Linked DNA regions of Homo sapiens. The protein of the gene in region 1 interacts with the protein of each later gene in a biochemical or structural test. Each region holds a gene or a part of one and is shown on either strand. Other genes may lie near its edges.

Region 1 (7,024 bases):
AGGGTAATTGTATGATTGGATGTCTTGATTAATCTTATCTAGAAAGAGACAGTGATGGAGGCTGAAGTGATGCAAGGAAGTGACAGTCACTTACATTAGCCAGGATGGAGGGATGATTTTGTGGCTCGGAAGAAGTTCTTGATTTTGTCCTCACTCATGCGTGATCGCAGAGTGGTCTTGTTTCTGTCTTCGCCCATCAAGGTCACACAGTGGCCTTGCCTGATGTTGATGCTCTGGGTCATTTCCGGTGTTCAGCAGGACAGCACTGAGGCCGGGCTGATAGGACCAGGCCAGCTTCCGATGGTGGGGCTGCTGTGTTCTCTCATCTTCCTCATCTGGGACCAGTGTCCCTGAGTCCAAAATCCCTGCTATATCCTTTCCAGAGAGCAAATTGTTAGTTTTCTGCTGATCGTGTGAGTTTAGAGGAGGGATAAAATTTCAATGTTCCCCAGAGTATGCATACACTTATTTTTTCTCTAGAGAGAGGGTCTGGCTCTGTTGTCCAGGCTGGAGTACAGTGGTGTGATCATAGCTCACTGCAGCCTCCAACTCCTGGGCTCAAGCCATCCTCCTGCCTGAGCCTCCTCCTGAGTAGCTGGGACTATAGGTGCATGCCACCATGCGTGGCTAAGATTTGTACTTTAAAAACAATTATTTTTAACCTACTTATTTATTTATTTATTTTGAGACCAGGTTATGAGACAGGGTAATTTTTGTATTTTTGGTAGAGTCAGGGTTTTACCATATTGCCAAGGCTGGTCTCAAACTCCTGGGCTCAAGTGATCCACCCGCCTCGGCCTCCCAAAGTGCTGGGATTGCAGGTGTGAGCCAGTCCAGCCTAGATGGACTTTTAAAAAAAGGTGTGGCAGAATACACATAGCATAAAACATACCACGTTCACCATTTGTAAGTGTGCGGCCCAGGGGCAGAAGCACATTCACGGTGCTGTGCAGCCATCACCACCATCCAGCCGCAGAACTTGTTCATCTTCCCAAACTGAAGCTCTGGCCCCGTTCAACCCCAACTCCCCACCCCCCAGCCCTGGCACCCACCCTTCCACTGTCCGTCTCTACAGAGTTCACGGCTCTCCTTTGAGGCCCCTCACAGGAGTGGAATCCTACAGTGCGGGCCTTTCTGTGACTGGCTCCTTTCACTGAGTCCCATGTCCTCAAGGGTCAGCCATGTTGGAGCCCATCTCAAAATGGCCTTACTTTCTACTCTGTGACTTGCGCCTTCATGCAGTCCTGTACGGCGGGGCTTGGTGGAGATGGAGAGCAGGGCAAGTGTTTAGCCACAGCTGAATCCTCACTCTCAATTTTAACTGTAATGTCAATTTTCTAGATGTCTACATGCTTAAAAGAGTAATTCCTTCCTTTCTAAAGCGTTGGCTCCCACTCTGCCCATGAGGCAAGCTGCTCTCATCTTGCCACAGGGAAATTTATGTCTGCCCAGTTACAGTGAGCAGTTTTTCCGTCCACTCCTTTCCCTGGAAGAGGTGGGGCTGGGCTCTCCCTGTTCTGTCTCAGACCCCAGTCTTCCTTACCATTCTATTTCATTTTATTTTATTTTGAGATGGCGTCTCGCTCTGTCGCCCAGGCTGGAGTGCAATGGCTCCATCTTGGCTCACTGCAACCTCCGCCTCCCGGGTTCAAGCGATTCCCCTGCCTCAGCCTCCCAAGTAGCTGGGACTACAGGCGCATGCCACCGTGCCCAGTTAATTTTTTGTATTTTTAGCGGAGACAGGGTTTCACCGTGTTGGCCAGGCTGGTCTCCAACTCCTGAGTTCAGATAATCCATCCGCCTCAGCCTCCCAAAGTGCTTGGATTAGAGGCGTGAGCCACTGCGCCGGGCCACCATTCTGTTTTAAATAGAGTTTTATTAAGGTACGATTCATATACCATAAAATTCAGCACTGTAAAGTGTACAATTTGGTGGTTGTGCAGCCATCACCATGTAATTCCAGAACATTTTTGTCACCCCTAAAGGAGCCACTACTCCCCGTTCTCCTCTCCAGCCCCACTGGCACCCCACTGCTCCAGCTGGCACCCACTCTGCTTCCTGTCTCTATGGATTTGCCTGGCTGGACACTTCACATAAGTGGATTCATTCCTTCTCGTGGCTGAATCCTCTTCCATTCTGTGGGTAGACCGCGCTGAGTTTAGCCATCCGTCAGTTGGATGAGTGGTGCCGCCACGAACCTCTGTGGACAAGTCTTGGTTTGGACACGTGTGTTCACTCCTGCCATTCTTCAGCTGAGCGTCTGGGCTGGTGGTCCTGTGCCCGGCCGCCAGGCCACAAAAGGGTGCTTGCTTCCCTTATGCCCCGGGGATCTTGGCACCTACTGCCCAAGCCCAGCCCTTAGCCCCCTGGCCGCCGCCCTCTGCAGGTGGCTGAGATCTGCGTTGAAATGGAGCTGCGGGACGAGATTCTGCCCAGAGCCCAGAACATCCAGAGCCGCCTGGACCGACAGACCATTGAGACAGAGGAGGTCTGGGCAGCCCACCGGGGGTTAGAGGGAGACGAGGGCCTGGAGCCTGTACAGCCTGCTGTTGGAAGTGGCTGCCCTGCCTGCCCCCCTCCCTTTGGCCCCTTCCTTCTGACTTGGACTTCCTGTCTCCCTCCCTGTCCCCCACCTCTTACCACCCTGGTGTGGTCTCCTCTGCAGGTGAACAAGACTCTGAAGGCGACACTGCAGGCCCTGCTGGAGGTGGTGGCCTCGGATGACGGGGATGTGCTTGATTCCTTCCAGACCAGCCCCTCCACCGAGTCCCTCAAGTCCACCAGCTCAGACCCAGGCAGCCGGCAGGCGGGCCGGAGGCGCGGCCAGCAGCAGGAGACCGAAACCTTCTACCTCACGGTGGGGAGGGCTGGGCTGGTGGGCGGGACCCGTGGGGGCATTGCTGGGGCAGAGGGAGGGGCTCAAGCCAGGGCTAACACTTGGGGCTCTTCTTGGGGCTGCCCAGAAGCTCCAGGAGTATCTGAGTGGACGGAGCATCCTCGCCAAGCTGCAGGCCAAGCACGAGAAGCTGCAGGAGGCCCTTCAGCGAGGTGGGCCCAGTGCTGCCCCCTTCCCCGCCTCTCCCCTGCCCAGGACCCTGTCTAGCCCACGGTCCTCCCCTCCCGCCTGTCCTTGGCTCTTATCCACACCTTTCTCTCTGGGATGCCTTGAAGACCCCTGGCCCGAGAGGCAGACCAATGTTCTCCCACCCCACAGGTGACAAGGAGGAGCAGGAGGTGTCTTGGTGAGTCCTCCCTGAGGGCTGGGGCCCTGCGACGGTCCGCCATCTCTTCTCTTCCTGGGGCCCAGCTCAGCTGCCCAATCCCCTGGGCCTCACTTCCCCAGTTTTCGCACTGGATTGTGGAATAACTTCAGAGAATTAGAGGCCGGCTTGGCTGGCCTGGGGGGTGGGGCACCCTATTCTCCACACCTGGCCCCCTCAGAGCCAGCTCCCATTCACTGCAGGACCCAGTACACACAGAGAAAATTCCAGAAGAGCCGCCAGCCCCGCCCCAGCTCCCAGTATAACCAGAGACTCTTTGGGGGAGACATGGAGAAGTTTATCCAGGTACTAGCTTTGCCCCACATGCCAGCCCACCTGTACATGCTGATCTTTCTTCAGCTCTGGGTCACCTCAGTGGCCGGAGCAGCTGCCTGATCCCAGGGTCCTCCACTCTCAATCAGTCATCAACTGTCCTTTTCTGGGTGGGCCTCTTCCAGGCCACTGTTGGGCTCCCCTATAGCCTCCGCTGATTGAAGGGAGCATCCTTAACTAGTAATGGGAACGTATAGAAAACCTGGGGCAGCGGCATTTTTAGGGGCGAGATATTGAGAGCTTCTCCCCTGCGACTTCTGGCCAGCATGGTACTGGGGGTCCTGGACAGTGAAATAAGGGGAAGCAAGAAAGATCAGAAAACTAATACTGAGATCAGAAAGCATCAGAGGGGGCCAGGCACGGTGGCTCACACCTGTAATCCCAGCTCTTTGGGAGGCTGAGGTGGGCAGATCCCTTCAGCCCAGGTGTTCGAGACCAGCCTGGGCAACATGGTGAAACCCCGTCTCTACTAAAAATACAAAAATTAGCCAGGCATGGTGGCACGTGCCTGTAATCCCAGTGAAAGAAAGAAAGAGAGAGAGAGAGAGGGAAGGAAAGAAGGAAGGAAGGAAAAGAGAGAGAAAGAAAAGAAAAGAAGCAAGCAAGCATCAGAGAGGGCCAGGCATGGAGAATACCAGAAGATCAGAACTGATATCGTCATTTTCAGTGATGTGGTTATGCGTGTAGCATATTCAAAAGAATCAACAGATTCTTTAAACGAGCACTTTGAGTTTCTTTCTTTTTTTTTTTTTTTTTATTTGTTGAGACTGGTTCTTGCACTGTTGCCCAGGCTGGAGTGCAGTGGCACGATCTCAGCTCCCTGCAACCTTCACCTCCCACCTGCTGGGGTTCAAGCGATTCTCATGCCTCAGCCTCCCAAGTAGCTGTGTGCACCATCACACCTGGCTAATTTTTATATTTTTAGTAGAGGTGAGGTTTCACCGTGTTGGTCAGGTTGGTCTCGAACTTCTGACCTCAGGTGATCCTCCTCCCTTGGCCTCCCAAAGTGCTGGGATTACAGGCATGAGCCACCACACCCAGCTTGAGTTTTGAAATGTTACTTGATTCAAGATTGGTGTACAGAATTCAATTGCATTTGTATATTCCAGCAACAATTTGCAAATACAACGTAAGGCACTGCCTAAAACCTCATCAAAAATATCAGACACCTACGAGTGGATCTAACAAACGGTGTGCTAAGCCTCTGTGCCGACAACGATGATGTGTTCTTCAGAGAAAATAAAAGCACTCAGCCTGGTGCGGTGGCTCATGCCTGTAATCCCACCATTGGGGAGCTTGAGGCAGGAGTATCACTTGAGCCCAGGAAGCTGAGGCTACAGTGAGCCGAGATCACGCCAGTGCACTTCAGCCTGGGTGACAGAGTGAGACCTTGTCTCAAAAAAAAAAAAAAAAAAAAAAAGCAATTGAATGACAACACAGGGCATGCTGTGTCCATGGTGAAGTAAACACCCTCTGTCCCCAGAGCTCAGGCCAGCCTGTGCCCCTGGTGGTGGAGAGCTGCATTCGCTTCATCAACCTCAATGGTAAGCAGGACCCAGCCCCTCCCGATGTCCTGGCACCCAGCACCCAGTTCCCAGCACCTGGCATGGGAGGCCATCCTGGAGGGGCTGGGGAAGATGCTCAGTGCCCACCAGCTCCTTGTCCTCCCACAGGCCTGCAGCATGAAGGCATCTTCCGGGTATCGGGTGCCCAGCTCCGGGTCTCAGAGATCCGTGATGCCTTCGAGAGAGGTGGGGACGGGCAGGGCGGGCGGGGGTGGGGGCTCGGGCAGATGTCACCAGCTTCCTCCCCCTACCGCACCACTCGCCCATCTGCAGGGGAGGACCCACTGGTGGAGGGCTGCACTGCCCATGACCTGGACTCGGTGGCCGGGGTGCTGAAGCTCTACTTCCGGAGCCTGGAGCCCCCACTCTTCCCCCCAGACCTGTTCGGCGAGCTGCTGGCTTCTTCGGGTGAGGCTGGGGCCTGAGGCTGGCGGGGTAGGGCACTTGCTGGGGCAGCCCCGCTCACGCGGCTCTCTCTGGGCGGCTTTGGCCACAGAGCTGGAGGCCACAGCGGAGAGGGTGGAGCACGTGAGCCGCCTGCTGTGGCGGCTGCCCGCGCCGGTGCTGGTGGTTCTGCGCTACCTCTTCACCTTCCTCAACCAGTGAGTGCTGCGGGGCGAGTGCTGGGGTGGGGGCCAGGGGTCGAGGGGACAGGGGGACTCGGGGTGCGGGCTCTCTGCTTGTGATGTGCGTGTCCCCCCAGCCTGGCCCAGTACAGCGATGAGAACATGATGGACCCCTACAACCTGGCCGTGTGCTTCGGGCCCACGCTGCTACCGGTGCCCGCTGGGCAGGACCCGGTGGCGCTGCAGGGCCGGGTGAACCAGCTGGTGCAGACGCTCATAGTGCAGCCCGATCGGGTCTTCCCGCCCCTGACCTCGCTGCCTGGCCCCGTCTACGAGAAGTGCATGGCACCGCCTTCCGCCAGCTGCCTGGGGTACACCCTTGGTGCTGCCGAGGGGACTGGGGGGTCCACTGGAGAAGAGCCCCCCTCATCTGCCTCGCTCTGCCCTGAACCTCAGGGACGCCCAGCTGGAGAGCCTGGGGGCGGACAATGAGCCGGAGCTGGAAGCCGAGATGCCCGCACAGGAGGATGGTGAGGGCGATGGGCAGAGAGCCCCACCCTGTCCCCACCCTAGTGTCCACACCCCCTCCCACAGCTTGGACCCCCTCTCCTCCCCAGACCTGGAGGGGGTCGTGGAGGCTGTGGCCTGCTTTGCCTACACGGGCCGCACAGCCCAGGAGCTGAGCTTCCGGCGGGGGGACGTACTGCGGCTGCACGAGAGGGCCTCGAGCGACTGGTGGCGGGGGGAGCACAACGGCATGCGGGGCCTCATCCCCCACAAGTATATCACGCTGCCCGCCGGGTGAGTGAGCCGCGCCCTCAGGCCCCAGGGCTCCCGGAGTCTCCCCTTCATCCACCCCTCCCCCGACCCCAAGTTAGATTCTGAAGGTCTGGGCTGGGCCAGAGAACAGAGCCTCTCTGACCACTCCTGGCTGGCGCGGAGCTGCTGGCCCTGGACCCCGTGCAGGGAAGGAGCACTCGAAACAGGCCGGTCCTTCCCACCGCAGGACGGAGAAGCAGGTGGTGGGCGCAGGGCTGCAGACTGCAGGGGAGTCTGGGAGCAGTCCCGAGGGCCTCCTGGCATCGGAGCTGGTCCACCGGTGAGCAAGAAGACGGGGCTCAGGGGGCCACACGTGTGCTGTTCTAGGCCAGAGGGGACTGGGGTCAGGCTTTGGCCAGTGGGAGTGGGAGGAGTTGGCAGATGAGGACGTGACAGAATGACCCAGCTTGTGACAGGGAGAGGCTCTAGAGGAGCTTGGGGACCACTGGGCCAGCCTCCTTTCCTTGGCCACACCCCAGGA
Region 2 (7,912 bases), on another chromosome or scaffold:
AAATCACTAACCTTCATAGAGTAGAGCCCAGAAGATGGTAACACTGGTTCAAGGACAGGCTAAGGGAAGCGAAGGGAAGTAAAAGGAAGTAAATAGGAAAATACAACAAACATGTGATTAACAGCTGTTTTCTGAAGCAAGGCTCCACCAGGGATCTGCAGCTGTGTCATTGTGCTTCAATTCTGCAGCTCCTACAGGGCTAAATTGGAAGAGGCATGGAGCAGGAAGATATGTGCGAAAAGGCTAAAGGAAGTCCAAAAACCGTGGCAACAATATAAGGTGAATGCCCCCACTCCTTAGATATCCTAATTTTTATCCCTCATGGGAGAGGTATAGGTCCATAAGAAACAAAGTCATCTTACCAACTGGATATCTGCTCCGAGCTGCTGCTGCTTCCTCTTCCTTTTTTTGGGGGGTGGGGGCCGATTTTGGAAGGGCAAATATTGATGGAACATCTACCAACACTGCCTCTTCCCTTTAACAAAATCAACATGATGCATGCTTACAGATTGCCTTTGAAAGTTACCAGTGCCTCCTCAAGATATAGTAGAGAAGCAGGTTTTAAGGTGTCAGACTGAGGCTTTCAAAATAATAGCTGCTAGGAGAATACAAGTTTGGGCCTGAAAACCCAGTTATGAGGCTTCCAAATAAATCAGTGGATTTTCAACTTTTTTTTGTAATTATTATATCCTAGTTCCCAAACAACCACAGTAAAGGAGGCACATGGAAAGCGAGGAAAAAATGAAATGGCATTGTCTTCCCCCAGGTGCTCAATCAGTATATTTCCTTTGATGTGTAGCCTTCAAGTAACTGACAACCCCAAGTGGCCCATTCTATAGGGTCCTGCATCTACGCTCCTTCCTCTGTGCGCTCAGCCCGGGTTGACAAGCAACCTCCAAATTAAACAACCTCCCACCACTACTTGGAAACAGACAACCATCTCTTAACAGGCCTCTGTAACACACAGCTTGATGAAAATCACTTACACAGGGCAGATGACACAGAGGAGTTTACAAGGTCGGGGCACTCCTTGGCGGGGCGTGAAAGGGTGGGAGGTGCTGAGGTCAGGGTTAAACTACCCTGTGAAATGAGCCTCCTGCCCTGCCCTTTCCTCCCTTCATCTATAGAAGGAGCCTCCAGTGAGTTCCTGCGTCTGGAAATCTGCCCCCTTTAGTGCCGCAGACAGGCCAGGGACAGCATTTCAAAGCTCCTCTAAATCAATCCACTTAAAAGAGCCCAGAAAAGCCTGACCATTGACCATAATTGCCCTAAATTGCTTGTTTTCCTTCCCCTCTTGCAGCCTCATCAACATTTCCCTTCTTTCCCCCTTCGTGTCCTTTTTTCTTGGGGGCGCAGGTCCTCTAGATGCTTGGGGTGCACACTAAGGATATTTGAGTAGTGGGAGCTCCGACTCGAGGCAGGAGTGGGATGTCTTAGCATTCCGTCTCCCCCACCCCACCCATCTGCGTGGGACACAGTGACTCCTAGAAGGGTATCCCAGGATTTTAGCGGCCAGGTGTGAGCGCCCTCCACGCGGTCCTCCGAGACCTCAGGGCGCGTGGCAACTGGGCAGAAGCCGTCTCTGCAGCGCCGCTGCCCCGGGTGGAGCGGCAGCCCAGGCTGCAGCAGTGGGGTTGCCACGCCGAGTTTTCCGCATCGGCCGCCCGCAGGGCTCGCCTGCTTCTCCCCATTGTGTTCTCAGAGCTGTGGGACCCAGCCGCGCGCGCAGCCGCACCCGCGCCAACGCTGGAACCGAAGGCTCATGGAAGCGGGGCTGGCAAGATGGGGCAGGGAGAAGGAGCAAGAAGGGGCCCCAGAAGGGCACGGCGTTTCATCAATAATGCAGAGGCTCCTGGACCTCCCTGCAATACGTTTTCCAGCTAAACGCCACCAACTGGAGCGCTTCCTGGTTCGTCCCACTCGTGTGGTTTTTGTGTGTGAAAGATGGGACGCACCTTTTTCATTCATCTGTCTTCTCTCATTCTTCCTCCTTCCCTCCCTCATTTCCTCCCTCAAAGTCCCCGCTGGCTTAGCTTTAAGCTCTCGTCTTCACATCAGCACCATGTTTTCAAGCAAAATCCTGCAGGTTGGAAATGCAAGTGTCAAAAGTCCCCACTGCCTACATACCGCCAAGAGTTTACCAAAATCCACCTAGTAACGCTTATTTTCAAAGCCCCCACGCGCATCCATTCCTGGAGAATGCTTTCAAAGTTTGGAAGCTCCCTGCAGCCTGCCCGTGTCTATGCCTCAGTCAGCTCACATCACGAACAACGGTGCGGTCAGCGGCACTGAGATTAGGCTGCAAAGTTGCCCGGCCCCAGCCCACTACACCGCTGATGCTCGCCGCATCCCTAGAGCAAATTCCGCTGTGTGCCCCCAAGAAGCCAAAAGCGGCACGAAACCTACTCCAACAAGGGTTAGCCCAGCCACACACACAACAAACAAATTCCAAAACTTCTTTGTTAAGCAGCCGCAGCCTACCTGGAACGGACACTCTGCACAACTGGCAAGGAAGAAACAAACATCGCATCCCTGCAGGAAAACTTGTTGAATCCCTCCCGATCGCAAGGCTGCAATTTCCGATTTAGCCTGAAGGTTTTTGATTCTACCCCAAAACACCCTGGCGCATCAGCCACAATTTCTGGATAAACTGCAGAGTCCTCTCGGCAACCATTCTGCACTCCAACAACCACTAGTGTAAAACCCAGCGTGTCCCCTTTTACAAATCAAAAGCCAGCTGTCACTTCCCTTGCAACCATTTCCGAGACTTACCCTTCCATAAGACTGTTTTCAGCAATCTAGAGGCTCCGTAGTGCAGACGCAGCCCTGCAACTTTGCTGTGCACTGAGACCTTTCCGAGTTTAAACCAAGCGAAAGGTGACAGACTTTTAAACCTAAGAGTGGGGAAATAGGGAGAGAGTGAAGTCGGGTTTCTTCTCTGTATCAGCACCCTGGAAAAATTCAATCCTTCTTCAGTAGAGAATTCTTTCAAACCCGTTATCTGTATTACTATTAATGCGCAGAGCAGAAGGCATTGCATACAAATAGGTCCAAGTGTGCGCTTCTATTGGTGGCTGCGGAGGCCCCTGGGTCCTACTGCTCCGGTCTAAACTACACAGCAACACTAGGCACGCAGCTTTGGAGACGCCGAGGGGAAAATGGATTTAATTGATTCGTTACCTCTGGTATTGTAATGCCTGCTGCGATGTTTAACCGAGGGGGGAGGAAAAAAAAAAAAAAAAACCCTTACATTTAACTCCTGTCATGTGATCTATCATTCCATAGCTGCTTTTAATTGTCTGTGTGGAGTGGCTTTGATCATACAAAGGATTTTAAAAGAACATTTTCGAAGGAAAATTCACACAGACACTTTTGGCAGGAAAACCCTCTTTTGCTCTCTATTATGCATTATTCTCATATAAATCCAGGAAATTTTATATAATCAAATACTTCTGCACTTCACGTAGGTACACACAACACCCAATTGTATTTACAATTCATAGCTACTACAAATAAAATACCTTACATGGGTAGTAGATAGTAGAAGCTAAAATATGAGTCTACCAATTATAAAACACGGGTTATATTAGTCAAATGCTACAGAAAAAATTCCATCAATGACAATGGCGTCAGCATCATTTTTACTTCGCAAAATTAGAAATTCAAAAATATTTTCCTTGTAAATATTGACATAAAGATATAAATCAACATAAAGGTATTATAATGTCACAGTATGTCAAGCATTTACTATTAATTGCTACATTATCTTTTTACAGTTTCTCTCTTAGCAAGTTCATTAGTAATGCAAATTGGCATAACAAGGAGATTTAAAGTGAGGCCGACCTGTGGTGACTAGCAATTTGAAATATTGTAATAGTGTGCAAAATCACTTTAGTTCATCATCGGTAAAGCCAGTTATTTTAAGAATTAGAATATTAAATGCTGAATCTTAATATATATTAATTTGAAGTCTTAAACATGCTGTTTTCTTTGACCTTTAATTTTGTGGAGGAAAAGAGAAATCCTTATTTAAACTAAAATGACATAGACTTTCCACAAAATCCTAGATACGATATTTACTGATATTATAATTTAGGAAGTAACATAATTTTATTGTCTTTGATGTAAATAATTGTGATAAATTCCAATTTAATTACAAAATTATTACATATATGTAATGTACAACTGAATGAACATTGTTGGAAAGGGCCACTCTGGATAAGGTTAACATCAACCAACCTATAAATTCACTACCTATGTGTAAACTAAATAAATGAAAACACAATGCAAAAATACAACAGACTCGAGATCTTATTCCAAATACATGTAAAGCATTTGAATTTATGTAGTGTGTGCTACAATCCCTCTTCATTTCCGTAACTCTTTCCCTTTACAGCCCCTTCCCTTCCCCCAATCAGTAACCCTTGACAACAGAAGTGTTAACTTCAAGTCCAGGTTGCCTTTGCTGCCTTCCAGACCTAACTTACAGATTGCATCCTTGTAGGAAACAGAGTTAACTCTTACACGACTGAGAGGTGAAAGAAGAGAGTTTCTTTCAGGGATTAGAAAATCCAGTATTTTTATGTGTATTTGCAAAGTTTGCACCAAACACATATTTTTAAAAATATCCATGATCACTAATTCAGAGTGAAAAGATGTGATCATTGGCATTGTATCAGAGTCAATTTGCTGTATATATCCATTGCTATTGTGTCACTGAAATAGCTTTTGAATAACTTTTATTCAGGGTTACTTCAATCACTTTACTTCAGGTTAATAATTTCTCCATTTACAATAGAGTTAAAATGAAAATACCAAAGTGTTGCAATATTCAGTATAAGGGTATAAAGGACTTTTTTTTAATCTGTAAAAGAAAAGAAAAGCTATTATTTCATATAGTAAGAAAAGCATAATGACCATGCAAAGTTGAATAAAGATGACTGACATTCATCTTATTTCTAAAACAAGTAAATTATTGGTGTTTCAACTTCTTTCTACAAGGGGATCTGAAAAAAATCATTTGCAACCCAACTACAAGTTGAAAGTTCTGCATTTAATGTGTATCATTTTAGAACTGAGAAAAGATGTGTTTTACACAAGCTGACAGATTTTATACAAAATCAATGCAGCTTATCTATGACCATAATTAAATGGGGAAGTTTGATAGTGGACACATATAATAGTGAACAGAAGAAAATAAATAAACCAAAACTGACCTAATAACAAATTTATTATATAATCTCTTGATAAGTTTTTACTTTCTATATAAAAGACTGATGTAAAAATATAGCAAGCTAAACAGAAACTTAAGTTTAACTTACTATTTTTTTAAAAAAGTTTTCTACATCTCTTCAATAAATTACTTGTTTATCCAAATTATTACCATATGAGATGTATATATATATATATATATATATATATATATATATATATATAAAATAAATATATAGTTGTAAATGTTGCAAATATATTTTCCTTACTTCTTGGATACTAAGGCAAAACATATTTTAAAGAAGGATATTAGAACCACAATAGTTTTCATATATCCTAGATCTGTAGGAATATCCTTGATCTATTCTTTATTATTTGAAGTATTGTTGGACCCCTCATTTTGTCAGTGCAATTTTCAAGGACAATATATGCTATGTCAGAAACTGATATCCATTATGTCCTTGGATCATGATGACAATGCCTTATTGTGGTTACTGTGAACATCTATAAAAGTTGGAAAGCAAAACATACATGGCATATCCCTGTCTGTCATTACTACAATCAGCTTCCTTTCTAAATTTAGGTGGGTAAACACGCAATAGCATGCCACTTGATAAAACTTAATGAAATATAATGACATTCAGCTACTATCCAAGCTATTTAAAAAATTCTGCCTTGAGTAATTTTGAAATATGTATAGTTTAAAAAATTTCAAAGCCACAGGCATTGATCTATGTGTCTCTTTAAATAGAATATTTATCCATGCTTGATTTTGACAGATGAAAAGGAAAACTACCAGACATATAAATTATATTCTGAAAGCAGAAATATAAAGAATGTTAACAGCTAAACAGGCATCTTTAAAAGTGTAAATCAGTACTAAACAGCAATATATATATACACACATATATATGTATATATACACATATATACACACATATATGTATATATACACACATATATACACATATATGTACACACACATATACACATATATGTACACACACATATACACATATATGTACATACACACATATACACATATATGTACATACACATATATACACATATGTGTACATACACACATATACACATATGTACATACACACATATACACACATATGTACATACACACATATATACGCATATATGTACATACACACATATATACGCATATATGTATATACACACATATACGCATATATGTATATACACACTTATATACACACATATACACATATATACACATATACACATATATACACACATATACACATGTATACACATATACGCATATATACACACGCATACACATATACTCATATATACACATGCATACACATATACGCATATATACACATATATACACATATACGTATATAGTCACATGTATACACATACGTATATATACACATGTATACACATATACGTAAATATACATATATATATACACATATACATATGTACACATATGTATACATGCACATATACACACATATGTATACATGCACATATACACACGTATACATGCAACATATACACACATGTATACATGCACATATACACACATGTATACATGCACATATATACACATCTGTATATATGCACATATGCACATATATACACATCTGTATATATACGCATGTATACACATCTGTACATATACACATATATATGCACATATGTGTATATATATGTTGCAAGACACCACATCTAAATACATGGCTCAAAACTAATCTGTATGAATTGCTAAAGTAGGTGAAGAAAGTACAGCTCAAGTGTTAAAAATATCTATATAAGATGATACGTTTGAGAAGAAAGATAGAACTTCAAAAAGGTCAATTAAACTTGACATTAAGTGGAAGGGATGAGAACTTCATGGCACAGTGATTTGGTTAAGATGATCACCATAAATGGAATGCTCATATTAAAATTCCAATAAAAATTTGCAAAGAAAGAGGCTAGAAGAGGATATTTTCTACTATTAACAAGATTATAAAGCAAACAAGATTATAAAGCAAACAAGATAAAAGTTGACAATAAAAGTGTGGAAGTAAAATACTTTGGCAAAACAACACAAACACGAAATAGGGTTGGCATCTACTATAGACTTTCCAGATTAGAGAAAATGTTAATAGATAATTTTAAATTTGAACAGGAAGTTCTTAAGATTTCTACCTATTGTCCTAAGAAATCTGGGAATAAAAGCTCCACATACTTTTGTGAAAACAGACAAAAAATTTAAACCTATGTAAAATGTCAGATAAATTTTGAATTAGAGCAAATAAATGAATATAAATATACATATATACAATATTATGCCACCATTACTCCACTAATTAAGAGCTGAACAACAATTTTCTGTATGTTATATGAAAGTTAATGGTCAGATTTCATGGTTTGCCCTTCAAAAGACACAACTGTTTACACTATTTAGAAGGAAATCTAACCAAACTTTAATGTATTTAAAGGCTATTCATTTGATCTCTTTTAAAGACTCCCAAAGACTTGCTTATAAAGCATAATAAGACAGAAATAATTTTAAACTATATTTTTATTCGTATACCATAATTCTTAGGTAGCTAAATTTAATCATATTCCGTTATTTGCTTTTGTCCTGGACCAACTTCAAAAGCTAACATTAAAGTTATGAATCACTTACTCATTCAGTTAAGGGAGGAGACCACCCCTCATATTGTCT

What was found. The genes of interacting proteins can lie anywhere in the genome.
Region 2: the proteins of ARHGAP4 (region 1) and ROBO1 interact in a biophysical measurement, tested with the Homo sapiens proteins (one study listed by IntAct).

What each region holds. Positions count from the first base shown.
Region 1 is NC_000023.11:153,909,242-153,916,265, reverse strand, and holds part of ARHGAP4 (rho GTPase-activating protein 4), read left to right. Parts: intron 1-2,386; coding exon 2,387-2,488; intron 2,489-2,665; coding exon 2,666-2,857; intron 2,858-2,963; coding exon 2,964-3,048; intron 3,049-3,214; coding exon 3,215-3,242; intron 3,243-3,463; coding exon 3,464-3,566; intron 3,567-5,076; coding exon 5,077-5,137; intron 5,138-5,266; coding exon 5,267-5,344; intron 5,345-5,431; coding exon 5,432-5,566; intron 5,567-5,654; coding exon 5,655-5,760; intron 5,761-5,861; coding exon 5,862-6,095; intron 6,096-6,180; coding exon 6,181-6,254; intron 6,255-6,341; coding exon 6,342-6,525; intron 6,526-6,730; coding exon 6,731-6,823; intron 6,824-7,024. UniProt on the Homo sapiens protein: Inhibitory effect on stress fiber organization. May down-regulate Rho-like GTPase in hematopoietic cells.
Region 2 is NC_000003.12:79,764,980-79,772,891, forward strand, and holds the start of ROBO1 (roundabout homolog 1 isoform a precursor), read right to left. Parts: upstream 3,020-7,912; 5' UTR 2,773-3,019; exon of another isoform or gene 2,482-2,772; intron 1-2,481. UniProt on the Homo sapiens protein: Receptor for SLIT1 and SLIT2 that mediates cellular responses to molecular guidance cues in cellular migration, including axonal navigation at the ventral midline of the neural tube and projection of axons to different regions during neuronal development.